Regions from separate parts of the Homo sapiens genome. Here region 2 is linked to region 1. The links come from fine-mapping of genetic effects on gene expression. A gene starts in region 1. The other region holds a variant in brackets. All regions are shown on one strand. Distances are between the middles of the regions. Region 1 holds the start of SLC6A16 (solute carrier family 6 member 16). Region 2 overlaps SLC6A16 (solute carrier family 6 member 16).

Evidence for each region. PIP is the estimated chance that this variant, and not a neighbour inherited with it, causes the effect.
Region 2: its variant is fine-mapped to the expression of SLC6A16 in whole blood (TOPMed, PIP above 0.99).

Annotation. Positions count from the first base shown.
Region 1 is chr19:49,315,616-49,332,039 of GRCh38, forward strand. It overlaps SLC6A16 (solute carrier family 6 member 16), which reads right to left and starts at 9,576. Exons shown (of 12, transcript NM_014037.3): 1 at 9,433-9,576. RefSeq lists an enhancer at 10,740-10,889 and a silencer at 11,683-11,834.
Region 2 is chr19:49,279,706-49,296,129 of GRCh38, forward strand. SLC6A16 (solute carrier family 6 member 16) reads right to left here. Exons shown (of 12, transcript NM_014037.3): 8 at 14,662-14,848; 9 at 14,122-14,323; 10 at 13,518-13,677; 11 at 10,900-11,062; 12 at 9,933-10,687. The coding sequence ends at 10,418. Among named protein-coding and RNA genes, the nearest start is that of MIR4324, 21 kb to the right of the region's middle. The variant G/A (reference allele first, on the strand shown) is at 7,623.

The DNA of each region.
Region 1 (16,424 bases):
GAGATGATTCAAAGCATACCACTAGAGAAAATCAATATAATTAGTCACATTGATATAATAAAGAAGAAAAATATTATCATCTCAAGAGATATAGGAAAAACATACAATACAATGATGATTTACGGAGAAAAACTTTTAGCAAACCAGGAATAATTTCCCTAACCTGATAAATGGTGTCTCTCAAAAAAAAAAGATTATACTTAATAGTGAACATATGCTTAAACATAGGCACATATTTAATAATGAAGTGAAGAAAGCTTGCCTTTTGAAATCAAGAACAATCAATGAAACCAGCTATCAGCACTTCCTTCCCATTGCATTAAATATTTTAGACAACACAGGAAAGCAAGGGGAATAAAAGACAAAGATTAAACAAAACTCACTATTCACAGATGATATATCTATGTGGAAGATCCAGAATACTACAGATAAATTATTTAAATTAATAAGATAATTTAGCAAGATTGTTGGATGCAAACAGCAATAAATGAAAATTATTTATATGTCTATGCTTGCAATACATAATTAGAAAATAAAATTTTAAAATAATAATGCCACTTATAAAATAATTTTTTAAATATAGAGTAAAATCCTGGGAAGGTAATGGCAATAACAGCAACATTGTTTTAAAATCTTCCCAAATACTCACATGAAAACAAGTAGTTCTACTAGATTGCAAGCCCAAAATCCATGGATAATATTTACAATATCAAGATAAACCCCAAAAGACAAGTCTATGAGAACAAACCACAAGAGCCACAGACCTGTATAGAATCAGCATCTGTGTGGGAGGAAACAAAGGAAGCAAGAGAGCATCTGACAGACCTGGGGATGGGGGACAGGGAAACCAGTCTCTCAAAATAATCAACAGGTACTCACCAGAAATCATGGGAAGGCTATTAGAGAACAGCAGCTAAAACTAGAAGATGTCTTGCCTAATCCAATAACAGTTGAGTGCATGGAGTCAACAATAGAAACTGAAGGGACCAGGGCAGACTAGATTCTATGAACTCTTAAAATTAACCAACCAGGGATCTTTTCCAACCCAGAGGCCACAATGAGGAGAAATTCCTGTGAGTAAAGCCAAATTGAGCAATACAAGAACAAGAATGATGAAGGATAGGCCAGACACAGTGGCTCATGCCTGTAATCCTAGTACTTTGGGAGGCCAAGGCAGGAGGATCACTTGAGGCCAGGAATTCAAGATAAGCCTTGACAATGCAGTGAAAACCCATCTCTACCAAAAAAAAAAAAAAAAAATTAAAATTAAAATTAGCCAGGCATAGTGGGACACGCCAGTGGTCCCAGCTATTTGGGAGGCTAAGTGGAGAGGATCGCTTGAGCCCAGGAGTTCAAGGTTGCAGTGGGCTATGATCACACCACTGAACTCCAGCCTGAGCAACAGAGTGGGACCTCATTCTCTAAAAAAATAAAATAAAATAGGCCAGGTGCAGTGGTTCATGCCCGTAATCCCAGCACTTTGAGAAGCCAAGGCAGGAGGATCACTTGAAGTCAGGAGTTTAAGACAAGCCTGGCCAATATGGTGAAACCCCATCTCTACCAAAAAATACAAAAATTAGCCAGGCATGGTGGGACACACCTGTAGCCCCAGCTACTCGGAAGGCTGAGGTGAGATAATTACTTGAATCCAGGAGGGGGAGGTTGCAGTGAGCCAAGATTGCACCACTGCACTCCAGCTTGGGCAACAGAGTAAGACCCTATCTCAAAAATAATAACAATAATAATAAAATAAAATTAATTAATTAAAAGATAATTTTAAGAAAACATAGAAATGAAGGATATACAGGATCCAGATAAAAATGGGGAGAAGAAATTTCCACTTTTGACCATGAAAGCAAAACAGTGTCTGGAGTTACCTCCACAAAAACACTACAAAACTGTACAAATAGGCCAGGCGCCGTGGCTCACGCCTGTAATCCTAGCACTTTAGGAGGCCGAGGCGGGCGGACCACGAGGTCAGGAGATCAAGACCATCCTGGCTAACATGGTGAAACCCCATCTCTACTAAAAATACAAAAAATTAGCCGGGCATGGTGGCGGGCGCCTGTAGTCCCAGCTACTCGGGAGGCTGTGGCAGGAGAATGGCGTGAACCCAGGAGGTGGGGCTTGCAGTGAGCAGAGATCGCACCACTGCACTCCAGCCAGGGCAACACAGCGAGACTCCGTCTCAAAAAAAAAAAACTGTACAAATAATTAAAACAACTATTTTCACATATTAAACAAAGGCAGTACAGCATTGCAATCTCTAAAAAAAGGCCAGAAAACAAGGTAACTAATTGCACGATTGCCCCATTTTTCTGCTAATTTCCAAACTTTGGCACAGGAGGAAGAATACAAACAGAGCCTGGCAGTCTCAGCACTTGAGGAGGCAAAAGTCAGTTCAGGAAGGCTTAGGTGACTAGAATTAGCTGGGCTAAGTACTCAACAGAAGGGAGCCACAGAGAAAGAGCTCTAGGAATCTGGATAAAGTACCTTCGAGCCATTAGCTAAATATCAACCTGCACATGTATAGTATGAAACCTCATAAGAACAGGCAAAGAATAAATTCCAAGGAAAGAAAAGTACTGGGGAACTACAGGTAAAACAATTCCTAGAACTTGGAGAAGAACAAGAATTACTCAAGTTTCCATCAGCCAGTGTGGAGAGACTTTACTGAATACTTGGAACATTTAAAGTGGCATAAACTAGCTCTAGTTCTAGTAGTAGGACTACTTTAGACCTGAAAAAAAAAAATTCTTAAAAGCAACCCTTAAACAGCCAAAACTGATCTTCAAGTAACTTAACTGCCTGTCACAACAAAGGCCAACATTCCTTAAGATAATACAGACAAACCTAGCACTGAACAACAAAAAATTCATAATGTCAACCATCTAGTCAAAAATTACTAGACATGCAAAAAAGCAGGAAAAGTGACCCATAATCAGACAACAAAAACAGAAATGATAGACTAATGGAATTAACACACCATAACACTAAAATAGCTGTTACAAATATGCTTAATATGGTCAAGGACTTAAAAGGAAAACATGAACAGAATGAGGAATATAAGATAGCTAGATAGCTAGCTAGCTAGACAGACAGATAGATATTTTCTCTTTTGAGACAGAGTCTCACTCTGTTGCCCACACTGATCTCAGCTCACTGCAGCCTCTGCCTCCAAGTTTCAAGCAATTCTCCTTCCTCAGCCTCCCAAGTAGCTGGAATTACAGGTGTGCACCACCACAACTGGCTATTTTTTTTTTTTTTTTTTTTTTTTAGTAGAGACAGGGTTTTGCCATGTTGGCCAGGCTGGTCTCGAACTCCTGATCTCATGTGATCCAGCTACCATGGCCTCCCAAAGTGCTGGGATTACAGGCATGAGCCTCCATGCCTAGCCATGATATATTTTAAACATCAAATAGAACTTCTAGAGATGATACAACACCTGAAATGAAAATTTCACTGAAGATTACTGGCAGATTTTAATAAATCAGTGAACTTAAAGATATAGCAATAGAAACAATCCAAAATGAAGCACAAAGAAAAAAAAAAGACTGAAAACAATTACCAGAGCATTAGTGACTGTGAGACAATATCAAATGGCCTAAAATGTGTAACTGGAGGTCCAAAATAAAGGGAGGATGGGAAAATGAAACCAGGCCAATTTTCCAACAAGCCAGATGCCCATAGAACTGAAGCTTGAGAAACTTACATTTGTACAATGAGATGAACCTGCTGTATGTTGACCAAGTACTCTTCTTTACTCCTCCCTAATTCCTTCATATATGTGTGTGTGTATATATATATATTTGTATATACATATAAATACATATACATATACATATGTGTATATGTGTATATGTATATACATATACTTATACATATATGTGTATATGTGTATATGTATATACATATACCTATACGATATATACATATACATATATATATCAAGAAAAGACTCACATAATTGAAAGGATAAAAGGACAGTTCTACAATAATAACTGGAGACTTTAATACCCCACTACGAACAATGGACAGAAGCAGCAGACAGAAGATAAGCAAGGAAATAGAGGACTTAACACAATAAACCAACCAGATCTAACAGATGTATTCAGAACACTCTAGCCAACAGCAGCAGAATACACATTCTTCTCAAGTGCACATGGGACATTTTCCAGGAGAGACCACAAATTTGTAGGCCACAAATTTCCTTTTTTTCTCAATAGAATTAGAATGATAAATATCATACAAAATATCTTCTCCAGCCACAATAGGATGAAGTTAGAAATGAATCACAAAAGTAAAATTGAAAATTTTACAAATTTGTAGAAATTAAACAACACACTCTTAAACAACCAATGGATCAAAGAATAAACTACAAGGGGAGTTAGAAAATACTTACAGATAAATGAAAACGAAAACACACATACTAAAATTTATGGGAGGCAACAAAAGCAATGCCAAGGGGGAAATTTATAACTATCAATGGTTACATTAAAAAACAAAAAAGAGGCCGGATGCAGTGGCTCACGCCTGTAATCCCAGCACTTTGGGAGGCTGAGGTGGGTGGATCATTTGAGGTCAGGAGTTCAAGACCAGCTTGACCTACATAGTGAAACCCCATCTCTATTAAAATACAAAAATTAGCTAGGCATGGTGGTGGGCGCCTGTAATCCCAGCTACTCAGGAGGCTGAGGCAGGAGAATCGCTTGAACCTAGGAGGCGGAGGTTGCAGTGAGCCGAGATCACACCACTGCACTCCAGCCTGGGCAACAGAGCAAGACTCCCTCTAAAAACAAACAAACAAACAAACAAAAAAAAACCAGATCTTGAATCAATAACCTAACTCTAAAACTTAAGAAACTAGAAAAGCAAACTAAACCCAAAGCTAGCAGAAGAAAATAATAAAAATTAAAGCAGAAATGAATAGAGAATAGAAAAACAATAGAGAAGCCAAAAGTTGTTTCTTTAAAAATATCAACAAAATTGACAAACCTTTAACTAGATGTACTAAGAAAAAAAGAGAAGACTCAAATGATTAAAACCAGAAATGAAAATGGGGACATTATTACCAATTCTACAGAAATAGAAGGATTATAAGAGAGTACTATGAACTTATGAACAACTGTACACCAATAAACTGGATAACCTAGATTAAATGGACAAATTCCTAGAAATACAAATCTACTAAGACTAAATCACAAACAGAAAATCTGAATAGATCTATAACTAGTAAGGAGATTGAATTGGTAATCAAAAATCTCTCAACAAAGAAAAGCTCTGGACCTGATGGCTTCATGGGTGAATTCTACTAAACCTTTAATGAATTAATATCAATCCTTCTCAAACTTTTCCAAAAAATTGGAGAGGAGGGAACACTTCCTCATTCATCCTATAAGGCCAACATTGCCCTAATACCAGAGCCATACAAAGACATTATAAGAAAAGAACACTACAGACCTATATTCATTATGAACTTTGATGCAAAAATCCTCAAAAAAAATACTACCAAACCTAATTCAGCAGCATATTAAAAGGATTATATACCATGACCAAGTGGGATTTATTCCTGGAATGCAAGGATGGTTCTGCATACAAAAATCAATCAATATAATATACCACATTAACAAAATGAAAGAAAAATAATGATTCTCTCAACTGATGCAGAAAAAACATTTGACAAAACTCAATACCCTTTCATGATAAAAAAAAAAAAAAAAACTCAACAATCTAGGAGTTAAAGGAAAATACGGCTGGGCATGGTGACTCATGCCTGTAATCCCAACACTTTGGGAGGCCTGATGACCACTTGAACCCAGGAGTTCAAGACCAGCCTGGGGCCAGGTGCAGTGGCTCACATCTGTAATCCCAGCACTTTGGGAGGCCAAGGCGGGTGGATCACCTGAGGTCAGGAGTTCAAGACCAGCCTGGCTAACATGGTGAAACCTGATCTCTACTAAAAATACAAAAATTAGTCAGATGTGGTGGTGTGCACCTGTAGTCCCAGCTACTTGGGAGGCTAAGGCTGGAGAATCGCTTGAACCTGGGAGGCAGAGGTTGCAGTGAGCCAAGATCATACCACTGCACTCCAGCCTGGGTGACAGAGCAAGACTCCATCTCAAAAACAAACAAACAAACAAACAAACAAAATTTTTAATTACCTGGGTGTGTTGATGTACTTCTGTAGTCCTAGCTACTCATGAGGCTGAGATGGGAGAATCACTTCAGCCCAGGAGGTCAACGCTACAGTGAGCCATGATGACACCACTACACTCCAGCCTGGGTCACAAAGTGACACCATGTCTCAGCAAAAAAAAAAAAAGGAAAATATCCCAACATAATAGCCATATACGAAAAACTCACAGCAAATGTCATACTTAATGATAAAAGACTGTAAGCTTTTCCTCTAAGATTAGAAACAAGCGTAGAATGTCTAATTTTGCCACTTTTATTCAACATAGTACTGGAAGTCCTAGCCAGAGAAATTAGGCAAAAATATAAATAAATAAAAGGAAACCAAACTAGAAAGATTATATGATCTTATACGTAGAAAATCCTAAAATTTTCACCAAAAAAATTTTTGAGCTAATAAATGAATTCAGCAAAGTAGCAGGATACAAAGTCAACAATCAAAACTCAGTTGCATTTTTATACACTAACAATGAACAATCTGAAAAGAAAATTATGAAAACAATTCCATTTGTAATAGCATCAGAAAGAATAAAATACTTAAGAATTAACTTGGCTGGGCACGGTGGCTCAAGCCTGTAATCCCAGCACTTTGGGAGGCCAAAGTGGGCAGATCACCTGAGGTCAGGAGTTCGAGACCAGCCTGACGAACATGGAGAAAACCCGTTTCCATTACCAAGTTACCCAGGCATGGTGGCACATGCCTGTAATCCCAGCTACTCAGGAGGCTGAGGCAGGAGAATCACTTGAACCTGGGAGGCAGAGGTTGCAGTGAGCCGAGATTGCACCATTGCACTCCAACCTGGGCAACAAGAGTGAAACTCCATCTCAAAAAAAAAAAAAAAAAGAATTAACCAAGAAGGTGAAAGACATGTACAAAGAAAACTACAAAACATTGCTGAAAAAAATTAAAGGAGACATAAATAAATGGAAAAATATCCCATGTTCATGGGTTGGAAGACAACACTGTTAAGATGTCAGTATTACCCAAAGCAATCTACAGAATTAGTAGCTTTTTTTTTTTTTTTTTTTTTTTTTTTTTTTTTTTTTTTTTTTTTGCAGAAATAGAAAAACACGTCCTAAAACTAACATGAAATCTCAAGGGACCCTGAACAGCCAAAATAATCTTGAAAAAGAAGAAAAACGCTGGTGTACTCACATTTCCTGATTTCAAAACATATTACAAAGCTATAGTAATCAAAATAGTGTGTTACTCACATAAAGATACAGACCAAGGGAACAGAATAGAGGGCCCAGAAACAATGTATGGAAAAATGATTTTTTACAAGGGTGCCAAGACTACTCAATGAGTAAAGGACAGTCTTTTCAACAAATGGTGCTGGGAAAACTGGATTATGTACAGGCAAAAGAGTAAAGATGGACTCTTACCTAACACCACATACAAATACACAAAATAAATCAAAGACCTAAATGTAACACTTAAAATTATAAAATTCTTAGAATAAAACATACGACAAAAGCTTCATGATAGTGGATCTGCAATGAATTCTTGGATATGATACCAAAGGCAAAAGCAACAAAAGAAGAAACAAACAGGATTTCATTAAAATGTTTTAAATTTGTGCATCAAGAGACACTATCAAAGGGGTGAAAAGATAACCCACAGAATGGGAGGAAATATCTGAAAATCATATGTATAATAAGAGATTAATATTCAGAATATATAGAGAACTCGTAAAACTCAACAACAAAGAAACAAACAACACAATTCAAAAATGGGCAAAAGACTTAAATAGACATTTCTCCAAGGAAGATATACCAATCTCCAAGAAGTACATGAAAAGATGTTCAACGTCACTAATCATTAAGGAAATGCAAATGAAAACTACAATGAGATAATACCTCGCATCCATTAGGATGGCTAATATAAAAAGGCAGAAAATAAGAAGTGTTGGTGAGGATGTGGAGAAATTGGAATCCTTGTGCCTTGCTGGTCAGAATGTAAAATGGTGCAACCACCATGGAAAACACTATGGTGGTTCCTCAAAAACTTAAAAATAGAATTACCATATGATCCAGCAATTCCACTTCTGGGTATACACCCAAAATAAGTGAAAACCAAGCCTCCAGTGGCTCAGCCTGTAATCCCAGCTCTTTGAAAGGCTGAGGTGGAAGGATTGCTTGAGCCCAGAAGTTCGAGGCTGTAGTGAGAGGTGATCATGCCACTGGACTCCAGCCTGGGAGACAGAGAGAGACCCTGTCTCTTAAAAATAATAATAATAGGCTGGGCACGGGGGTTCACACCTGTAATCTCAGCACTTTAGGAAGCTGAGGCGGGTGGATCGGCTGAGGTCAGGAGCTCGAGACCAGCCAGGCCAACACAGTGAAACCCCGTTTCTACTAAAAATACAAAAAATTAGCTGGGGGTGGTGGCGCACGCCTATAGTCCCAGCTACTTGGGAGGCTGAGGCAGGAGAATCGCTTGAACCTGGGAAGCAGAGGTTGCAGTGAGCTGAGATCGTGCCACTGCACTCCAGCCTGGGTGACAGAGTGGGACTCCATCTCAAATAAATAAATAAATAAAAAATAATAGATTCATGTTTCTTAAACACATTCTAGAACAGTTGTCCTTAAAAGCAAGCTTTACGGAAGGGAGAGAACTGAGTTTTGGCCAGCTGGCCACTTCCAACATCCATAAAGCCCCTTGAGCCCCAGGCGGACTCCTCTTCCCATATGGGTGCAACCCTCCATGGTGCCCCTACACCGTCATCCCAAGCAACTCCTAGGCTCATGCCCTGTGGGGAGTGCTCAGGATCCCCCAGAAATGCCCATTCCCCTCACATTACCTCCTTCCCTGGAACTATAACCTCCAGAAAAGGAAAATAAGGAGCTGGTGTCCCATTTCTGCAAAAAGCAGAAAATAACTGCCCTAACAGACCAGTGATGGGGCTAGACCCGGGTTTCTGCCACTCGGGCACTTGACACTGATGGCTTTCCCCAAAGGCAGGGACTGATGGCCGAATCCTGTCAAGGAATTGGCTCAAACTCGGACTGGATGAGTGAGGAGAGCCGAAGACAGTTTCCTCTGTCCTACGTGGGGGGTAAAGGAGGGACCCCTTTGATCCCTCAGCTCCACAGAGCCCAGGGCAACCAGGAGGCTCCCAGCCAGTCACCTGTCACCCGTCAGTGGAGCCCAGTGGGCCCGGGCCTCGAAAATGGCGCCCAGCCCCACACACCCCAGATGTGGGAACATTTTAGGGCTCCCTGGGCCGTGACCCTCACCCTAGCCCCAAGGCTTCTGCCAGGTTCTTCAGTCCAGCCAGTCGGACAAAAATGAGGGTGAAGAAGCCCCAGCTGAGAAGCCTAGCAATCTCCTCAGGCCCCTTCAGGCGTCGACAGATCGGTTTGGGCGACACCCCTCGATCTGCCTGGCGCGCGGCCTTTCCCGCCGATTCTCTGCGCATGCGCCGCCGCGCCCCCTCACTCTTTCCCTACAGCTGTAGCAAACACTGTAACCACTTCGCCCTCCCCAACTCCCTGCTCTCTCCCCACACGCACGCACGTGTGCACATCCTCTGACTGCTCACGCGCCACTCCCTTCCCCACCGCACCCCACCCCGACACCCACGATGCCACGCTTCAGGCGGGGCTCTAAGACAAGGCCTTTCTCTGGCACATGCACTTTGCTTCCACTTCATGTAAGGAAGAAGAGGGTAGGAAGTGGGAGAATCGTCTCATTCATTCCTTCTAGCCTTCAAACCTTTCGCATTTACTTAAAGATCGCCTACTAGAAACCAAACCTTAAATATGCGTCCAACAAGGCAGACAGGGACGTTGCCTTAAGAGAGCTCAGAAGCCTACTAGGGCTGCAGACAAGAATTAAAAACTCAAAGATTTACTTAGGTCATCCGTTCTCATACTTTCCGGTCTCTTAAGAATTATTAAGGACTCCAATAATTTATGAGTTACATTTATATGGGTTGTATGTTTATGTGAGTTGTATCTATCAATATTAAAATAAATTTCTAAAATAGTCATTGTTTAAAAATTCATTATGTGTCAAAATAACATTTTTATTTAAAATAACTATAATTTCTACTCCAAAAGAAATTTTGGCGCTGGGCGCGGTGGCTGACGCCTGTAATCCCAGCACTTTGGGAGGCCAAGGCGGGTGGATCACGAGGTCAGGAGTTCGAGACTAGCTTGGCCAACATGATGAAACCCCGTCTCTACTAAAAGTCAAAAAAAAAAAAAATTAGCCGGGCGTGGTGGCACACACCTGTAATCCCAGCTACTCGGGAGCCTGAGGCAGGAGAATCGTTGGAACCCAGGAGGCAGAGGTTGCAATGAGCCGAGATTTTGCCACTGCACTCCAGCCTAGACAACAGAGCAAGACTCCGTCTCAAAAAAAAAAAGGAAAAAAAAGAAAAAATTTGGGGAGAAGAATGGCATCATTTTACATTTTTGCAAATCTCTCTAATGTCTGGCTTCATAGAAGACAGCTGGATTCTCATATCTGCTTCTGCACTGAGTGTGTCAAAATAGCTCATGTCTTGTAGCTTCTGGCAAACATCACTATATTCAAAGAGGAAATGAAAGTGAAAGGCAAATAATATCTTAGTAGTATTATGAAAATAATGTTCACCTCATGGACCCCCAAAAGTGTTTCAAGAGCCCCCAGGAGTCCCTGAGCCACACTTTGAGAATGAAAGGCTTAAATTGTTATGATTGAACAAAGAGATGAAGAGGAAATTTTGGGGGTGCTGTAAGAATTCATCACAATCTTTGGGAATCATTCAATCTTTCAACACGTATTTATCGAGAGTCTACTAAATGCTAGGAACTGGGAATAGTGTAGAGAACAAAACAGACCCCATTCCTGCCCTCGTTTTGCTTCACACAACAAGAAAACAGATATATGATGAATCTCAAATAATTACATGATTATAAATTGTATTAAGTGCTATGACAGGCCGGGCATGGTGGCTCACGCCTGTAATCCCAGCACTTTGGGAGGCCAAGGTGGGCGGATCACATGAGGCCAGGAGTTCAAGACCAGCCTGGCCAACATGGTGAAACCCCATCTCTACTAAAAATACAAAAACGAGCCAGGTGTGGTGGTGCACGCCTGTAATCCCAGCTACTCGGGTGGCTGAGGCACAAGAATCACTTAAAACCATGAGGCAGAAGTTGCAGTAAGCCAAGATCACACTACTACACTCCAGCCTGGGTGATGGGGTAAGACCCTGTCTCAAGGAAAAAAAAAAAAGTGCTGCGACAGAAAAGGGCCACAGACCTATTTATTTCTATCGAATTTTTTTTTTTTTTGAGACAATCTCACTTTGTCACCCAGGCTGAAGTGCAGTGGCATAATCTCGGCTCACTGCAACCTCTGCCTCCCGGGTTCAAGCAATTCTCCCTGCCTCAGCCTTCCGAGTAGCTGGGGTTGCAGGTGCCTGCCATTACGCCTGGTTAATTTTCATATTTTTAGTAGAGTCAGGGTTTAGTAGAGTCAGCCTGCCATGTTGGCCAGGCTGGTCTTGAACTCCTGACCTCAGGTGATCCGCCCGCCTCAGCCTCCCAAAGTGCTGGGATTACAGGCGTGAGCCACTGCGCCCGGCCCATAGACCTAATTTAGAAGGAGGATTTCTCTAAGGAAATAACACTGGAGTTGAGGCTTAAAGGATTATTTGCTAGGTGAAAAATGTGTGTGAACATCTCAAGCCTTGAGGCTGTGCAAAGGCCCTGAGGCAGGGCAAACTGTGTGTTCAAGGCACCAGGAAAAGTCTCAGTCGGTCAATAAATATTTATTGAATGATGTGCCCCACACTGTCCTAGACCCCTGGGATATAGTTATGAAAAAGATTTTACGTTCCAGTTGCACAAAGAAAGTAAATGCCTAAATAGAAAGAATTTCAGAGAGTAAGAGTGCTGATAGGGAGTTACTTTAGACAGGGTAGTCAAGAAGGACTCTTGGGGAAAGTGATATTTCAGCAGAGAGCTGAAGGAAGGGAGCCTTGTGAACAGCATAGGGAAGAACATTCCAGGCAAAGAAAATGGCAACAGCAAAAGCCTTGAGGCAAGAAGTACACTTGATGGGTTCTGGAAATGGCAAAGAGTCTGATATGAATGGATCCCAGTGATTGAGGAAAGGGTAGCAACAGATCAGATCAGAGCAGTGGCAGGGGCCAGAGTATTATTTGGAGGCCCTTATAGGTCATGGTCGGAATTTTTTTCTTTTTTTTCTGGGTGAGATGAAAGCTATTTGAGGGTTCTGAGTCAAGGAGTGACTTTCATTTTAATGGCAGGCTCCCCCTGGCTTCTGGGCAGAGAATAGCATGTATGGGTGTATTCCTCTGTTTTCACACTGCTGTAAAGAACTGCTCAAGACTGGGTAATTTACGAAGAAAAGAGGTTTAATTGACTCACAGTTCAGCTTGGCTGGGGAGGCCTCAGGAAACTTACAATCATGGCAGAAGGCAAAGGGGAAAAAAGGCACCTTCTTCACAAGCAAAGGAGGGAAGAGCCCCTTATAAAACCATCAGATCTCATGAGAACTCACTCACTATCACAAAAACAGCCTGGGGAAACCACCCCCATGATTCAGTTACCTCCACCTGGTCTCTCCTTTGACACATGGGGATTATGAAGATTATAATTCAAGATGAGATTTTGGGTGGGGACACAGCCAAATCATAGCAATGGGCTAAAGATAGAAGCAGAGAGCCCAGTGAGGAGGAAATCTCTAGTCCAGGCAAGTGATGGTGTTGATTAGATCTGGGTAATAGCAATGGAGATGGTGAAAAGTGGTCAAATTCTGGATCTATTTCAAGAATAGAGCCGACATGATGTGTTGATGGATTGTGTGGTGGTTTTAAAATACGTCTGCAAATTCTTCAACACTTTGAAAGATAAAGTCTATTTCCCCAATCTTTGAGTGCAGGCTCTCCTTAGCAACTGGCTTCCAATGAACATAAGTAATGGTGGGGAACTTCAGGACTAGGTCATAAAAAGCATTGCTGTTTCTTACTTGCCCATTCCCTTCAACTGATTTCTGTAAAGGAAGCCAGTCACCATACGGTGAGGACACTCAAGCAATCTGTGAAGAGATCCATATAAGAGAAGAGCTGAAATTTCCTGCCAGCAACCAGCACCAGGTGAGTGAACCATGGTGAAGTGGATCCTCCAGCCGTAGTTAAATCTCCAGATGACTACAGCCCCAGCCAACATCTTGACTGCAACCTCATAAAACACTGTGAGCAGAAATCATCCAACTAAGCTGCTCCCAGATTCCTGACCCACAAAAACTACAGTAGGTAAGAAATGTTTATTGTGTTTTTTTTTTGAGATAGAGTCCTGCTCTGTTGCCCAGGCTGCAGTGCAGTGGTGCGATCTCAGCTCACCACAACCTCCGCCTCCCAGGTTCAAGCAATTCTCCTGCCTCAGCCTCCCGAGTAGCTGGGACTACAGGTGGGACCACATCCAGCTAATTTTTGTATTTTTAGTAGAGACGGGGTTTCACTATGTTGGTCAGGCTGGTCTCGAACTCCTGACCTCGTAATCTGCCTGCCTCAGCCTCCCAAAGTGCTGGGATTACAGTGAGCCACCGCTCCTGGCCTAAGAAATGTTTATTGTTTTAAACTGCTAAATTTGGGGTAATTTGTTACAGAGCATTAGAAAACTAATGGTGATTAGGTTTGGGGTCTGAGAGAAAGAGAGGAATCAAGAATGACTCAGCCGGGAGCGGTGGCTTGCACCTGTAGTCCCAGCACTTTGCAAGGGCGAGGTGGGAGGATTGCTTGAGGCTAGGAGTTTGATAGTAGGATACTAGCCTGGGCAACATAGCAAGGCCTTGTCTTTTTTTTTTTTTTTTTTTTTTTTTGAGACAGTCTAGTCTCGCTCTGTCGCCCAGGCTGGAGTGCAGTGGTGCGATCTCCACTCACTGCAAGCTCTGCCTCCCAGGTTCACACCATTCTCCTGCCTCAGCCTCCCGAATAGCTGGGACTACAGGCGCCCGCCACTACGCCTGGCTAATTTTTTGTATTTTTAGTAGAGACGGGGGTTTCACTGTGTTAGCCAGGATGGTCTCGATCTCCTGAACTCGTGATCCGCCCGCCTCGGCCTCCCAAAGTGCTGGGATTACAGGCGTGAGCCACCGTGCCCAGCCCGGCCTTGTCTCTTAAAGGAAAGAAAAGTGTTTTTTAATAGCCAGGTGTGGTGGCACGCATCTGTTGTCCCAGCTACTCAGGAGGCTGAGTGGGAAGATCACTTGAGCCCAGGAGATTGAGGCTGCAATGAGTCATGATCGTGCCAGTGCCCTCCCACTTGTGTGACAGAGCAAGACCTCAAAAAAAAAAAAAAGACTCCAAAACTTTGGGCCTGAAGAATTGGAAGATGGAGTGACAATTTACTGAAAAGGAAAGTACTGGAGTGTGCAGGAGGTGGGAGGGAATCAATAGTTTCGTTTTGGGCGTGTTAAGTTTGAGATGTCAATTATACAGCCAAAGGCAGAGGTTAAGTTGTCCTTCACTGCAAGGAGACCTGGGAAATGAATCTTCCTGAGTCCGCAGTTCAGGGGAAAGTTTGAGGCTAGGCATATAAATTGGTAAGTCAACAGTATTGTAGATTGCGATGAACACTATGGCACTGCATGATATCATCTCGTGAGTGAGTGTAGCTAGAAAGGGCTAGGACTCCCCAAATTTTAGAAGCTAGAAAAAGGACGATCCAATGAAGATTGAGGAGAACCAGCCAGTGAAGAAGGAAGGAGGAAAAGCAAGAGGGAATTTGCCAGTAAAGGAGGAGGGGATCAGGTGAATTCAATGGGTAGAATTGCTGTTCTCAAACGTTAGTGCACATCAGTCACCAGGAAGGCTTGTTAAAACACAGACTGCCAGGCCAGGTGCAGTGGCTTGCCTGTAATCCCAGGACTTTGGGAGGCCAAGGTGGGCAGATCACCTGAGGTCAGGAGTTCAAGACCAGCCTGGCCAACATGGTGAAACCCTGTCTCTACTAAAAATACAAAAATTAGCTGGGCATGATGGTGGGTGTCTGTAATCCCAGCTACTCAGGAGGCTGAGGCGGGAGAATCGCTTGAACCCGGGAAGCAGAGGTTGCAGTGAGCCGAGGTTGTGCCATTGCACTCCAGCCTGGGCAATAGAGTGAGACAAAAAAAAAACACAAAAAAAAAAACAGATTGCCAGGCCCGCCCCCAGAGTTTCTGATTGAGCAGGTATATTCGCTTCCCGAGACTGCTGTATAAATTACTACAAACTTGGTGGCTTAAAGCAACAAAAATATATTATCTCACAGTTCTGGATGCCAAAAGTCCGAAATTAAGGTGTCAGCACGCCACTTCCTTCAAAGGCTCAGAGGACAATCCTTCCTTGACTCTTCAGTTTCTGGTAGCTCCTGGTGTTCCACTTTTTTTTCCCCTGTAGGGTCTTGCTCTGTCATCCAGGCTGGAGTGCAGTGGTGCAATCACGGCTCACTGCAACTTCGATCTCCCAGGCTCAAGCAGTCCTCCCACCTCAGCCTCCTGAGTAGCTGGGACTGTAGGTACATACCACAAAGCCCAGCTAATTTTTTTGTTAATTTTTGTAGACAGGGTCTCACTATGTTGCCCAGGCTGGTCTCGAACTCCTGGGCTCATGTGATCCTCCTGCCTCAGCCTCCCAAAGTGCTGGAATTACAGGCATGAGCCACCTCACCTGGCCCATAATAATGTTTTGATATATATAGTGTATGCAGTAACAGGTATTCTATTTGTAGTTGTTAGGATGTTTAAGGTTAGCTGATTTAACAAACAACCGTAAAATCTTAGTAGCTTAATACAACAGGTTGTTACTTACATAAAGTCCAAAATGCTTTATGTAAGTCCAAGGATAATTCTCAGCTTCCTGCAGCCAGTGAGTGAAGGGAGAAAGAGTAAGGATTATGGAGGACATTTCAGGCTGAGTCTAGAAATGGGCTGTGTCCCTTCTGCACCCATTCCATTGGCCCAAGACCAGTCACATGGCCTCAACTTCACTGCAAGGAGACCTGGGAAATGAAGTCCTCCTGTGTGCCTAGGAAAGAAGAAACCAAGTTGGTGAGCATCAAAGCTGCAGTGAGCCGTGATTGCACCACTGCACTCTGCCACCTACCCTTCGACTTCTGGTTAATCATGTACTCATCTCTGAGGAGGGATCAGTGGGTGGGAAGGAGGGATTGGTGTATTAGTCTCCTATGGCTGAAATAGCAAATTACCACAGACTTACTACTTAGAACAACAG
Region 2 (16,424 bases), 36 kb before region 1:
AAGAGATGCCTAATTAGATCAGACTGAAACATCAGAGACCGACTGTCCTGCCTGCAGGCACGGGATGACAAAATGGAGAGACCCTGGCTTGTCAGGTATGGTCCATTTGAAAAGCTGCTGGCTGCTATGTCAATGAGTTAGGGCCCTCATGACTAAATCATCCTGGGACCCTAAGTTCTGGGACCCCATGGAGAGCTCTAGTGGGGAAGAGAGTGAGGCCTGGGATGAGCTCATGGAGGTGCCCATCCTCTCTGCACGTTTGCTGGTCAACACCAAGATGAAAGCCGACCAACCACAGACATAGGGGGTCACCCTGCAAGACTTGCCCCTGCCTGGAAGACACCATAGTGCGGGATTCCACGGCTGTGGAGTTGGTGGAGCTGGGAACTAGGTTCAGGAAGAAGGGCAGAGAGTCGGTCACAGGGTGGCTTCTCTGTCTATGGGACATGGAACAGAGATGAGTGAAATGGCATCCATCACCAACCATCCAGCCCTGAGGCGGTGCCTCGATGGCACCAATAATGACGATCGGGCCACCCCCTCCTTAGCCGGGTGGTTGCAAGCTGCAAGGCAGCCTGGCCAAATGAAAGGAATGTCCCAGCTGGGTGCAGTGGCTCAGGCCTGTAATCCCAGCACTTTGGGAGGCCGAGGCAGGAGGATCATGAGGTAGGGAGTTTGAGACCAGCCTGGCCAATATGGTGAAACCCCGTCTCTACTAAAAATACAAAAATTAGTCGGGTGTCGTGGCAGGTGCCTGTAATCCCAGCTACTCGGGAGGCTGAGGCAGAAGAATCGTTTGAACCCGGGAGGCGGAGGTTGCAGTGAGCTGAGATGGAGCCATTGCACTCCAGCCTGGACAACAGGGCGAGACTCCATCTCAAAAAGAAAGAAAGGAATGTCCCCACATCTCCTTTGTGATGACAGATTATGGAGGAATTGAGGGACATCCTCTGGGAATTAGGGGTGATGCTTGCTATCTACACTGAGCATTACCGAGGCCCTGACAAGGAGCTTTTCACTGCGGGCATGAGAAATGCCATCTTACAGTAGGCACACTACCAATGGTGTGGCACACTGGCGTCTATCTTGAGTCCCTTCATAGGAATCACTTGAACCTGGGAGGCGGAGGTTGCAGTGAGCCAAGATCGTGCCACTGCACTCCAGCCTGGACCACAGAGTGAGACTCCGTCTCAGAAAAAAAAAAAAAAGGCAAAAAACCAAGAATGCATCCAGGAGGCAAGGTGGCTTACGCCTGTAATCCCAGCACTTTGGGAGGCTGAGGTGGGCAGATCACGAGGTGAGGAGTTCGAGACCAGCCTGACCAACATGGTGAAACCCTGTCTCTACCAAAAATACCAAAAGTTAGCTGGGCACCTGTAATCCCAGCTACTCTGGAGGCTGAGGCAGGAGAATCGCTTGAACCCGGGAGGTAGAGGTTGCAGTGAGCCGAGATCGTGCCACTGCACTCCAGCCTGGTGACAGAGTGAGACTCCATCTCAAAAACAAAACGAAACAAAAAAACAAGAATGTACAGGCTGTTCCCAGCGGATACTGGAGCTGAATGCACTCTCGTATGTGGTGACATCCGTGGTTCCAGTGGCCTATAACAATAGATGGTCGGTGGGGGCGGGGGTCGTGAAAGTCAGACAGGTTGAGCTAGTATTACAAGTTAGGAGACTGCTGCCCAAACCCTATTTAGTATACAGAGCTCCTATCCCAGATTACATCTTGGGAAGGGCTGTCTCATCAGGACTGTGACCCTCTGAATTGCGACTGAGTTAGGATGGTGAGGCGCGTGATCAAGGGGAATGCGAAATGGACACCAGCACAGCTGCCAGCCCCTCTGTGAATAGCAGCATTGAAACGACAACACCTGGCCGGGCGCGGTGGCTCACGCCTGTAATCCCAGCACTTTGGGAGGACGAGGCAGGCGGATCACGAGGTCAGAGGATCCAGACCGTCCTGGCTAACACGGTGAAACCCTGTCTCTACTAAAAGATACAAAAAATTAACCGGGCGCGGTGGCGGGTGCCTGTAGTCCCAGCTACTCCGGAGGCTGAGGCAGGAGAATGGCGCGAACCCGGGAGGCGGAGCTTGCAGTGAGCTGAGATCGTGCCACTGCACTCCAGCCTGGGCGACAGAGCAAGACTCCGTCTCAAAAAAAAAAAAAAAAAAGAAAAGAAAAAAGAAACGACAACACCTGCCAGGAGGTCATGATGAGATCATAGGGACTGAAAAGGAAAGAAGTCTGGGTAGACATTATAAGACCAGTGAACAGCCCATACAATAGCCCTGCATGGCCCATGTGGATGCCTGATGGGACACGGAGAATGACATATTACTGGGAGTTCAACAAAGCCGTCCCCCTAATGTATGCAGCTGTTCTCATATCGCCTCCTTTCTTATGAGGATAAGAGAGGGACTGCACGCACCTCATTTTGTCATTGCATTCACCTGGTATATTAGTCCGTTTTCAAGCTGCTATAAAGAACTGCCCAAAACTAGGTAATTCATAAGGGAAAGAGGTTTAATTGACTTACAGTTCAGCATAGCTGGGGAGGCCTCAGGAAGCTTACGATCACAGCAGAAGGCAAAGGGGAAGAAAGGCACCCTCTTCACGAGGCCGGGCGAAGGGGGGAAGAGCCCCTTATAAAACCATCAGATCTCGCGAGATCTCACTCCCTGCCACGAGAACAGCATGGGGGAAACCGCCCCAATGATTCAATTACCTCCACCTGGTGTCTCTGACACGTGGGGATTATAGAGATTTCAACTCAAGACGAGATTTGGATGGGGACACAAAGCCTAACCCTAGCTGGGCGTGGTGGCGGGCGCCTGTAATCCCAGCTGCTCAGGAGGCTGAGGCAGGAGAATGGTGTGAACCTGGGAGGCGAAAGTTGCAGTGAGCCGAGACCACGCCATTGCACTCCAGCCTGGGCAACAGAACGAGACTCCCTCTCAAAAAAAAAGCCTAACCTTTTCACCTGGGAAGGAGAACAATATACCTTTACTGTCTTGCCGCGGGGATATTTCCATAGCCTCACTATCTGTCAACGCCTAGTGGCCACAGACCTCAGTAGATGGACTACCCTGGAGAGGGTACATGTTTTCCTTTACATTGATGTTAAATTCTGAGTCTTTTGCCAGCTAACTTCTGAGTCTCTATAGCCCTCACCTTGCTGTCTCACTTGGTTAACAGAGGATGGGCGGTCAATGCAGACAAAGGCAGGGTCCAGGCTTATCAGTCCAATACTTGGTGTCATCTGGTTGGGTAAGACTAACGGTGTTCAATTTGCCATTCTACATATGGTGCAGGCCTACCCACATCCTACACCACCAAAGTGGCTGCAAACCTTCTTAGTTCTTCTAAGGCCGTGGTGTCCTTTTATTTCCCATTTGGCTCAACTCCTTAGGCCACTGTACCACTTAGTCAAGAAGGGGGCCAACTGGGACCAGTGGCAAAGGCAAGGACACAAACTTGTACCTTTAGGATTCTGGTTCCAGCTATGGAAGGGGACTGAAGTTACAGTGTCAGGGAGCTATAATTCTGCACTACGTGTTATGCCTTACAGCAAGTGGAAGATGTTCCAAAGGGGTTCCCATGCTAGTACATACCCAGTACCCCATAGTAGGTTAGCTGGGATTACAGGTGCCCGCCACCACGCCCACCTAATTTTTGTATTTTTAGTAGAGACAGGGTTTTGCCATGTTGGCCAGGCTGGTCTCAAACTCCTGACCTCAGGTGATCCGCCCACCTTGGCCTCCCAAAATGTTGGGATTACAGGCGTAAGCCGCCACGCCCAGCCAGCCTGTGCATTCTTAGGTGACCAATATATAGTTAGCTAGCTCTATATGTGGCCGCCAGTCTCCAGACACTCAGCCACCATTGCTCTTATCGGGATCCTGAGGCCTTAGCCTTTATCCTAGTCGAAAGTAGGACACCTTCCAGAAACCAAAATCTGGGAATGCCCAGAAACAGATTGTGGCCAAATGGCACGCATGCCTGCAACAGAGGAGTACACGAACTAGCACAGGGTTCCGTTTGCTGCTTGGCCCTGTCACCTATGTGACAGCTGAAGGACAGTCTTTGACAAGGCACTGAGCCTCCACATATTCCCTCCTTTATATAAGAGGGACAGGCCCCAATTCCTGACCAGGCCTGGTACACAGATGGCTTGTCACGAGGCAATCCTTCCACCTGTATCCAGCTGTCCACTGAGAGTATCTGGCTCGATACAGGCAAAGGACATGTAGCCAATGGGCTGAGCTGCCTGGATGGTTTCTTCTAGGAGCCGGACCCAACAGTCCTGTGCACTGACATCTGGGCACCATCTTTAAGGGGCCCACCATGTGCCTACTACAAGGAGAAACACAGGATTGGATGGTAGCAGGCAGCCCCCTTTGGGGGGCTGATATAGAAGAACATTCTCCACTGCACCTGGGGGATGCATGTAACAGTCTAGCGTCTGGATGCCCACACTGCATAATATCCCTATTGTCTTACTCCAGCCTCATGTGACACTTTGTAGAGAGGGGGCCAACCTATTTGGTATTGCAAACCAAGCACCAGGCCACTCTCGGGGTGATGCTGTCTCAGAAGGACACAACTTCCTGTTTCTTGTAAAATGACCATGAGGCTGGGTGCAGTGGTACATGCCTGTAATCCCAGCACTTTGGAAGGCCGAGGTGGGTGGATCACCTGAGGCCAGCAGTTTGAGACCAACCTGGCCAATATGGCAAAACGCCACCTGTACTAAAAACAAAAAATTAGCTGGGCATGATGGCGGGCGCCTATAATCCCAGCTACTTGGGAGGCTGAGGCAGGAGAATCGCTTGAACCCAGGAGGCGGAGGTTGCAGTGAGCCGAGATCCAGCTACTGCACTCCAGCCTGGGCAACAAGAGTGAAACTCTGTCTCAAAAAGAAAAAAATGACCATGACTTGCCCCTTCTTGTACTCACTAAACATCTCACTTTTCACCCATAGATGGTATGCAGCAAACCTCTTGCCAGCTGAGCACAGACGGTGGTCTCTCTCCAGAACAAAACAGACTGTTGGGTCTGCAGAGAGCTGCCCCTCTCCTCCACTGCGGGCCTGCCGTGGTGCCTCGCAGCAGTTAACCTGAGTACCTGAAGCCACTTTTATATTCATTATTTTTTCTGTTGTAGTTTGTATTGCTGCTGTGGTGTCTGGCTGCAATGCTCCTCCGCATACCTGGCCCCAGGGAAATGGTGGAAGAACGGTACAAGAATGTGAGGGCCATTCAAAGGTATGCTAGAGTGGCCAGGTCGCAGTGGCTCACGCCTGTAAACCCAGCATTTTGGGAGGGCCGAGGCATGTGGATCACTTGAGGTCAGGAGTTCAAGACAAGCCTGGCCAACATGGTGAAACCCCATCTCTACTAAAAATACAAAAATTAGCCAGGTGTGGTGGCACATACCTGTAATCCCAGCTACTCAGGAGGCTGAGGCAGGAGAATCACTTGAACCTGGGAGGCGGAGGTTGCAGTGAGCCAAGATCGCACCACTGCACTCTAGCCTTGGCGACAGAGTGAGACTCCGTCTCAGAAAAATGAAAAACAAAAACAAAAAAAACACAGCAAGGTGGGTATGCTGGAGTGAGGGTATATGGTAGACGCACCTGGCAGCAATAACTTAAGCACACCCTGAGGATAAGGGCTGCCGCATGGAGGTTGCTGGGGGAGGGTGCTGAGTGAAAGTGCCATATAAACTGCATGCATTTTGCAAGTGGGTGTGGTTCTCCTGTCCAGCTCATCACCACTGGATCACCCTGTAAGTTATCTCAAATAAACCCTATTTCTCGTTTGCTAGCCCTGGGTCTCTTCTTCAGCCTCTTGAACGTGGCGCCATCCCTATTGAAGCGTCCCGCATGTCAGGGATGCAAATTAGAAAGCAGAATTAGGCCAGGTGCAGTGGCTCACGCGCTTTGGGAGGCTGAGGCGGGCGGATCCCTTGAGGCCAGGAGTTCGAGCCCAGCCTGGCCAACATGGCAAAACCCCTATCTCTACTAGAAATACAAAAATTAGCTGGGCACAGTGGTGTGCGCCTATAATCCCAGCTACTTGGGAGGCTGAGACATAAGAATCGCGTGAGCCCAGGAGGTAGAGGTTGCAGTAAGCCGAGATCGTGCCACTGCACTCCAGCTTGGGCAACAGAGCGAGACTGTCTCAAAAAAAAGAAAAAAAAAAGGCTGGGTGCAGGGGCTCACGCCTGTAATCCTAGCACTTTGGGAGGCCAAAATGGGCAGATCATGAGGTCAGGAGTTCGAGACCAGCAACTCTCGAGACAGGGCTACATGTGACTCTCGAGACTGTCTCGAGACTGTCTAGAGACAGGGCAACATGGTGAAACCCTGTCTCTACTAAAAATACAAAAATAGCTGGGCGTGGTGGTGCACCCCTGTAATCCCAGCTACTCAGAAGGCTGAGGCAGGAGAATTGCTTGAACCTAGGAGGCAGAGTTTGCAGTGAGCCAAGACCGAGACACTGTACTCCAGCCTGGGCAACAGAGCAAGGCTCTGTCAAAAAAGAAAGAAAGAAAGAGAGAGAGAGAGAGAGAGAGAGAGAGAGAGAGGGAAACACACTAAGAGAGAAATAAAATATTTTTTCTTTCTTTCTTTGAGATGGTAAGCCCCTACTTTTCAATCCCCCTCTCCCAAGTTCCACCTCCAAAACTGGACCGGGGATGGTGGGGAGGTAGGTGGGAGGGGCCTTGAGGCAGAAGGGAGGATGAGTGCCCTGGTTCCCAAAAGGGAGGAGGTTGAAGACCCAGACTATTTGATGAGAAGGAGGAGCCCACCGCCTTCTCTCTCCCATCCCCACATTACCCGATTCAATAGTGCAAGTCTTCAAGCAGATAGAGCATTTGGAATTTGGGGGGTGGATGGGCTGGCCTAATAGGGCACAGGAGCCAATGGGTGATGACACAGAGGTGCACGCCCCTCCAGCCCTCCTATCTTCAAGCTTGAAGAGCCAGACTTCAGAGGTCTGGAAACTTCAGATGCCTCTGCTCTTTCCTTTCTGCAGATCCACCTCTTGAGTCCTGCCTGCCAATGGTTGGGGGTGTCTTCTTTTCCTTTATCACTGAAACTTACCCGTGGGCTCTAAGCAATCTAAAAGCCTGAGATCTCTGAGCATTTAAGGGAAACCCATTCCCTGGATCTTTGGGAATCCCAATCACCTCTGTCCACAGCCCCCATCCCCAGCAGGTAACTGACAGGCCCCCCAGTCTCCTTTTGGGGAGTACTTCAGCACCCTCATGGCACTACCCTCCCACAAGTTCTTAAAGACCCACTCAGTGATCATCCACTGGGCAAGTTCAGTTGATTTGACCCTGGGATAAAAACCAGTGGTGCCCAGTACTGAGCAGAAATGGGACTCTTGGTGAGCTCAGTGAAACAGCTTGTTAGTAACTGGTTGTGGCACTGATTTACAGATGTACTCAGTCCACAACACAATGTTCAAACCTTGAGTGCAACCTCTTTTTAGAAATAATTTTAGACCTATAATAGGATTATCATGTATCAGTAGCAAGCACATTAATATCTTCCCCATCTTTGTTGAAGTCACCATTTCCCAGGTTTCCCTTGGCTAAAGGCCAGCCC[G/A]TGGATAATGCAAGCCTGGTAATCTAGTATCTGAGTTTGCCAGAGCAAGGGGAGGGCAGGAACTCAGGGCTGGACATTTAGCTTTAGAAAGACTGTGATATGGTTTGGCTGTGTCCCCATTTAAATCTCAACTTCAGTTGTATCTTCCAGAATTCCCATGTGTTGTGGGAGGAACCCAGGGGGAGGTAATTGAATCATGGGGGCTGGTCTTTTCCATGCTGTCTCATGATAATGAATAAATCTCATGAGATCTGATGGGTCTATCAGGGATTTCCACTTTTGCTTCATTTTCTCTCTTGCCACCACCATGTAAGAAGTGCCTTTCACCTCCCGCCAGGATTCTGAGGCCTCCCCAGCCATGTGGAACTGTAAGTCCAATTAAACCTTTTTGTTCCCAGTTTCAGGTATGTATTTATCAGCAGCATGAAAACTAATACAGTAAACTGGTACCAGTAGAGTGGGGTGTTGCTGAAAAGATACCCAACAATATGGAAGCAACTTTGGAACTGGGTAACAGGCAGAGGTTGGAACAGTTTGGAGGGCTCAGAAGAAGACAGGAAAATGTGGGAAAGTTTGGAACCTCCTGAAGACCTACTGAATGGTTTTGACAAAAATGCTGATATGAACAATAAGGTCCAGGCTGAGGTGGTCTCAGATGGAGATGAGGAACTTGTTGGGTACTGGAGCAAAGATGACTCTTTATTATGTTTTAGCAAAGTGACTAGTGGCATCTTGCCCCTGCCCTAGAGATTTGTGGAACTTTGAACTTGAGAGAGATGATTTAGTGTATCTGGCAGAAGAAATTTCTAAGCAGCAAAGTATTCAGAAGGTGACTTGCGTGCTGTTAAAAGCATTCCGTTTTAAAAGGGAAACAGCATAAAAGTTCAGAAAATTTGCAGCCTGATGATGCAGTGGAAAAGAAAAATCCATTTTTGAGGAGAAATTCAAGCCAGCTGCAGAAATTTGCATGAGTAGCAAGGAGCCTAATGTTAATCCCTTAGACCATGGGGAAAATGTCTCCAGGCCATATCAGAGACATTCATGGCAGCCCCTCCCATCACAGGCCCAGAGGCCCAGGAGGAAAAAGTGGTTTTGTGGGCCAGGCCCAGGGTCCCCATGCAGTGTGCAGCCTAGGGACTTGGTGCCCTGTGTCCCAGCCACTCCAGCCATGGCTGAAAGGGGCCAACGTACAGCTCGGGCTGTGGCTTCAGAGAGTAGAAGCCCCAAGCCTTGGCAGCTTCCACGTGATGTTGAGCCTGCGGGTGCACAGAAGTCAAGAATTGAGGTTTGGGAACCTCCGCCTAGATCTCAGAAGATATATGGAAATGCATGGATGTCCAGGCAAAAGTTTTCTGTAGGGGCAGAGCCCTCATGCAGAACCTCTGCCAGGGAGGGAAATGCAGAAGGGAAACGTGGGGTCAGAGCCCTCACACAGAGTCAGAGTCCCTACTGGGGCACTGCCTAGTGGAGCTGTGAGAAGAGGGCCACTGTCCTCCAGACCCCAGAATGGTAGAACCACTGACAGCTTGCACCCTGAGCTTGGAAAAGCCACACTCAACACCAGCCCGTGAAAGCAGCTGGAAGGGGGACTGTACCCTGCAAAGCCACGAGGTGGAGCTGCCTAAGACCATGGGAACCCACCTTTTGCATCAGCATGACCTGGATGTGAGATCTGGAGTCAAAGGAGATCATTATGGAGCTTTAAAATTTGACTCCCCTGCTAGATTTTGGACTTGCATGGGCCCTGTAACCCCTTTGTTTTGGCCAATTTCTCTCATTTGGAATGGCTGTATTTACCTGATACCAGTACCCCCATTGTATCTAGGAAGTAACTAGCTTGTTTTTGATTTTACAGGCTCATAGGTGGAAGGGACTTGCCTTGTCTCAGATGACACTCTGGACTTTTGGATTAATGCTGAAATGAGTTGAGACATTGGGGGACTGTTGGGAAGGCATGATTGCTTTTGAAATGTGAGGACATGAGATTTGGAGGGGCCAGGGGCAGAATGATATGGTTTCACTGTGTCTCCATTTAAATATAAACTTCAATTATATCTCCCAGAATTCCCACGTGTTATGGGAGGGAACCAGGGGAGGTAATTGAATCATGGGGGCTGGTCTTTTCCATCCTAATCTCGTGATAGTGAATAAGTCTCATGAGATCTAATGGGTTTATCAGGGGTTTCCACTTTTGCTTCTTCCTCATTTTTTTCTCTTGCTGCCATCATGTAAGAAATGCCTTTCACCTCCCACCATGATTGAGGCCTCCCCAACCATGTGGAACTGTAAGTCCAGTTAAACCTCTTTTTGTTCCCAGTTTCAGGTATGTCTTTATTAGCAGTGTGAAAATGAACTAATACAGACTGGAAGCCTTGTGACAGGAAAACTGAACATCTGAGACATCTATAGGAAAAAAAGATCTGCTTACATCCAGTCCTTGGAGTTCCAGTAGACTGATTTATTCACCAACAGCATTGCTCCTCCAGCTCCATTCCAGGAGACAGGCACCCCAGAAGTAGCAGGACTGGTAGACATCACTAGTATTGTATATGTGTTGTGCATGTATGTGTGTTGAGGAAGAGGATGGGGAAAACAATGATGGTGGTCACCAGGTAAGATGGGACCCAGGAAGGGATTGCAAGTCCAGGCCCCATGAACACCCCCAAAGAATGCCCCTCCTCTTGGAAATAAAAGTGGTTCTGGATCCAGGGAGATCAACAGTTGCAAGCTGATATTAAGAGTTGTCTATTGGATCTGTTCTAAGGGATATGTTATGTGAAGCCAAATTAATGAAGTTAGGAAGTCACATTACAAGTTGATGGGTACTTTGTTTCATCAACTTGTAGAATTTCTTCCTTTTGAACCTCTTTACTGGGTGTTAGCTGGTGACTTAGGGGTAGGGATGTGGAGGCTGTCATAGGCCCGTCTCCGCTCTTGGGCCTGAAGGGAATCCTATGTATGCGGCAGTATACAAAGTATGCAGGGATGGGGAGGATGACAATGGCAAAAAGGGTGATCATCAAGAGCAGTGCCCACGGTGGGTATGGTCGAAGCACCTCTTTTGACTGTGGAGAGATGGGAAAAGGGTTCAGAATATCAAAATCCCCAAGAGAAAAGGAAGAGTTGTGGAGGGGAAGGATGGGTGGGGAACCAAAGCAGAAAACCCATGAGTCTTCGGGCAGTAAGAGAATGAGATGACTGGGTTCTTTCACCCAGAGTGAATTGAAAGGTCTGGCCCCTACTCCCAAAGGGGTTCTGGGTCCTGGGGGAGGCTCACGGTGCTTGAGTCCCAGGACATGTAGGTGATCGGCTTCATACAAAGATGAACCATCATGGTCACAAAGATGATTAGCAGCACAACTGGACACAGATGGGGCCACAGCCAACCAAAGATGGGAGAGATGGGGTGGCCCAACAGGATCGTCAGGTCTGCAAGGAACCTGGAGAAGGGCCACCAGAGTGTGGGATGCCCAGTTAGGCCTCACCACCTTGGAGGCAGGGCCAGCCCAACCTTGGCATCTTTCAAACATTCTATTGTATCTCTAATCTCCTGTTTCATCTCAAGTCTTGTCCTCTCTCATCTTCCCCCTAGTCAGTCTGTCTTCTATCCTAACCCAAGAAACTTTTCCAAACACCCCTCTCCTGCTCAAGAACTTTCCATGGGTATCCAATGGCCTCAGGAGAAAGGCCAAGTCTCTTTCATTCATCCCATAAATATGAGAATGTCTATGATGTGCCAGGAACTCTTCTAAGTGCTGGATATCCAGCAGTGAACAACACAGATAAAATAAAGTGGCATTTGGCCCTTGGTGAACTTATCTAGTTTATTTCAGCCACCTATCCAGTCTCCTTTAGTACATATTCTCAATCTCAATAAATATACAAGTGGGGTCTTTTGGTCTAGGGTGCCCATCACCCTATCTCCACCTATTCATCTGTCCAGGCTCTGCTCAAGCATCCTCTTCTCTAGGCCACCTTCCCTAACTCTCCAGTCTTCCTTAACTAACCATCTATGCCCCCGGAGTTTCCCTGGCTACCTCTACTATAGACTTACCACCGGGTACTGGGATTTTCTGCTTATATACGTCTTTCTCTTTGGACTCTGAGCTCTTTGAGAAGAGTATCTCAATGTAAGTCATTCATATCCCAGTACCACAAGGCTTTCCTGACACAAAGTCTCAAGAAAATGTTTGTTGGGTGAGTTAATAAATGAGTCCATAAGTGAGCAAACTGACTCCAAGAACCACTATCAGATGAAAATGCTGAGGCTTTCACCCCTGAATTATACCAGGAACTCTTCTAAGTGCTGGATATCCAGCACTGAACACAGATAAAAGAAAGTGGCATTTGGCCCTTGGGAAACTTATCTAGTTTATTTCAGCCAACTATCCAGTCTCCTTTAGTACATATTCTCAATCTCAATAAATATACAAGTGGGGTCTCTTGGTCTAGGGTGCCCATCACCCTATCTCCACCTATTCATCTGTCCAGGCTCTGCTCAAGCATCCTCTCCTCTAGGCCACCTTCCCCAACTCTCCAGTCTTCCTTAACTAACCATCTGTGCCCCCGGAGTTGCCCTGGCTACCTCTACTATAGACTTACATTCCACAGCTATATCTTCCAGGTCTCACTCCCAGATTATCTTGTTCTCTTTCCCAGGTAGCTCTACCTTCCAGAATCAGACCACTTCTCTTAATCCACAACTCTTCTACTTTTGACCAAGCCATTCTTAGCTCTCACTTGAAATATTACATAGCTTTCACCAGGCGGGGTGGCTCACGCATGTAATCCTAGCACTTTGGGAGGCTGAGGCAGGTGATCACGAGGTCAAGAGTTCGAGACCAGCCTGGCCAACATGGTGAAACCCCGTCTCTACTAAGAATACAAAAATTAGCCGGGCGTGGTGGTGAATGCCTGTAATCCCAGCTACTCAGAAGGCTGAGGGAGGAGAATTGCTTGAACCCGGGAGGCGGAGGTTGCAGTGAGCTGAGATCGCACCACTGCACTCCAGCCTGGGCAACAGAGCAAGACTCCATCTCAAAAAGAAAGAAAAAAAGAAATATTACATAGCTTCCAACTCTTATCCTGGCTTCACTCTTGACTCTTCCTGGTCTGTTCTCCAGACAGCAGCCATAAATACCTTTTTAAAAAACAAATCTAATAATGGCACTCCCACCTGAAAATGTCATTCTCCTACTCAAAACCCTCCAATGCTTCATCTGCCATTCTGCATACAAAGCTGAGTCCTATCGTGGCTTACAAAACCCTACATGACTTGGCCACCATCACTTCTCTAGCCCCATCTCCTAATATCTTCTATTCCAGCCTCTCTGACTTCCTTGTTTCTCAAAAACTCTAGGCATTATGCTTCCTCTGGCCTTGGTAATTTCTGTTTCCCTGCAGGGAGCACTTTACTCAAAATCTTGTCATGACTCCCTCCCTCCTATCATTCAGGAGTCTGCTCACATGTCACCTTATCGGAAGGGCCCTCCCTGAAGTCGTATGTGACTTGGTGCCCACACACACTCCCACTATGTGCCATCTGACCTCATCCTTTGATTCTTCCTATCGCCTGTATTTATTCTCAACGTTTTTATTCTTTATTTGCTAATCTGGTTATTGTCTCTCTAGACCACTAAAATGTAAGCTTTCTGAGAATAGGAATACTTCTTTTATTCAATGCCCCTATCCCTGATGACTAAAATAGTGCCTGGCACATATTCAGCACCCAAAATATATGTGAAAATGGATGAATGAATAAAAAGATTTCCCAGAAGACTCTGAACTTAAGGGTCCCTATGTCACACTAGGTGGGTTGACAGTAGAGGCAACAAAAAAGGGGTCACCCTTCCCTATAGTCCCATGCTTTGTGAGAACCTGGGCTTAGGACATCACCTCCTGGCCCCATAGGCCCAGGATACAGCCATGGTTTCAAATACGACAACGACGATGATGGGGAAGACTATCCAGTAGTCACTCAGCAGTCTGATGAAGTAGCTGCCTGAAGGTCGAGTGAAGAAGAGGCCGCACACGAACATGAGCAAAAAGACTCCCACTGGAGAAAACATGAGATCTGGATCAAGGTTAGAAGTCACGGCTGGGTGACAAGGGCTAAGTAGAGGCCATAGACCAGGGCTGGTGGCAGACCCAGTGGTAGCCGGGCGAGGGGGCTTACATGTGTAATCCAAGCATTTTGGGGAGCCTAAGTGGGCAGATTCCTTAAGCCCAGGAGTCTGAGACCAGCCAGGCAACATGGTGAAAGCCCGTCTCTACAAAAGCTACAAAACTTAGCCGGGCGTGGTGATGCACGCCTATGGTCCCAACTACTGGGGAGGCTGAGGTGGGAGGATCACTTGAACCCAGGAGGCAGAAGTTGCAGTAAGCCGAGATCACACCACTGCACTCCAGCCTGGGCTACAGGGACCCTGTCCCAAAAAAAGAGTCCCAGTGGTGTCAGGGGTCAGGGTCATTGTTAGGAGTAGGGCCTAGGTCAGAGTACCTATGAGCAGCTTTGTATGTTTCCTGAAGAAAGAGAAGGTGTCCTGGAGTGGAGTAATGATGCCCTGCATAATCCCTATTGCGCTGCTCAGCCCCATGGCCAGCAACATCAGGAAGAAGATAAAAGACCAGAAGACAGACGGAGGAAGGAAGGACATGGCTTCAACAAAGGACAGGAATGCAAACTTTGGGCCCTCGCTAGCCTGCAAAGAGAACAAAGAGGTGTTAAAGTGTCATTGAACTAAACAATAACAAAAAAATATAGACAAGTATACATTCTATCTTCCCTGGAAAACTCCTGAAAATCCCTGGATCACTGAGAAAATCAGATGTCCAAGCTAACCCCCTGACATGGAAAATCAATCCACCTAGCATTATCCATGGAAGGCCATTCCGCAAAGTATAGTACTTTGTATTACTGAGAGCCACAGATGATTCTGGTGCTTCCGGGATTTTTGCTGGTGCTAATAAAAGCTAAAATTTCTGTTGTGCTAAAGGCTTTCAGGAACTCTAGGCTCCCCCCTCAGCTATGTTTACTGACCTTAAGAAACTGAGTCTCTATGTTGCACTCAGTCACCTCGCGGAGAACCATGCTTTTGATGTGCTGGGGAAGGCCACTGAGCCAGGCATTGTAGATGGAGGTTGGGTTGTAAAGCAGGTTGACAGGGGGCTTGGCATCAGGAGGCAGTTTCCCTAGGTTTATCAGCTTTAAAAGTATTTCAGCATTCCTGGGGATAGAGGGTTGAATCAAATCGAACCATTTGGCCCAGTAGGAGATAGTCTCCTTTTCCCTTATCTTCAAGATAAAAAAGGCTATCACTGGCTTAGCATTACTGATCTGGGTAAGATAGAGCCTGGGATGAATCCTAGAAGGCACCCGCCTTCAGGGACGTGAATTCGTTTGTGTAATCCTGGAGAATTTATGACCATGGGAGAGCCTAGGAGAAGCATTTTCTACAGTCTTCTTGGGGACTCTGTGGTCTCTGCTCTAGTGATGGGATTTCTTATACGCTGTCTACCTTCCCTCTCCACTGAGACTAACGGGTAAGAGCCAACTTTCTAAAGTTCCTATTACAGCATGTCCGGGAGCACACAGACTATGATCATAATGTCCCATGGAGTCGTGCTGTGTGGCAGCAACTGCTTGTTCGACTTTTTGATGTGAGCCCTGCTGACCATTTTGGCCTCATATGTCCCTACGGCCCTCTTCACATTCCATGTTCTGGCCAGATTTAACTACTTACCGTGTCAGGGCCCATCATACCCCATCACACACAATACCAACTCCACCCCCACCACCATTCTTCACTTGGCTAACTCCTACAAACCCTTAAAAATTCAGCTCATTGATCGAGACCATCCTGGCCAACATGGTGAAACCCCGTCTCTACTAAAAATACAAAAATCAGCTGGGCATGGTGGCACGTGCCTGTAGTCCCAGCTATTCGGGAGGCTGAGGCAGGAGAATTGCTTGAACCTGGGAGGCAGAGGTTGCAGTGAGCCGAGATCGCACCACTGCCCTCCAGCCTGGGCGACAGCGAGACTCCATTTCAAAAAAAAAAAAAATTCAGCTCATTGCTCTGTAAGAACTGCAATGGACAGCTTGCCAAGGTTCACTGATAAAAGCAAAAGGCAAGCAAGTAGAGTTTGATCACATTTTAGAAAATAAAATACTATATGCTATTCCAGTAATAAGCTAGAGATTTGAACCAATTTTCTCATCGGAAATAATTTAAAAGGCTGGAAGATATTTTTAAATCTTCTAACAAAATAAAAATGTTGACAAGATAATAAGGAATTATCAGGCAAACATTGAAGTACAGGCAAAGCAGTGGAGAAAGGGGACTTCCAAAGATACTTTGTCCCAAAGATGTATGCCAAATACAACAAACTGGACCTGCAGTTTCCAATTTTATGACTTTTCAGATACAAAAGGGGGCCATGGAGGCCAGATATAAAACACCAGAGCCTGCCCAAAATAAGGATCAGAATAGAAGTTCCCCTCTTAAATCTGACACTTCAAAGGGCTACACCTTCACAATAAAAATGAAGCAGAAGCTTGCTCCTGGCCCTTCTACACAACTGGGAATGCAAGGAAAGCTGTTTCAGAAATGATCTACAGATTTGATGCAATCCCAATTAACACCATAGCAGGCTTTTTATTTTCTTTTTCTTTTTTTTTGAGATGGAGCCTCGCTCTGTCGCCCAGGCTGGAGTGCATTGGTGCGATCTCCGCTCACTGCAACCTCCGCCTCCCAGGTTCGAGCGATTCTCCTGCCTCAGCCTCCCAAGTAGCTGGGACAG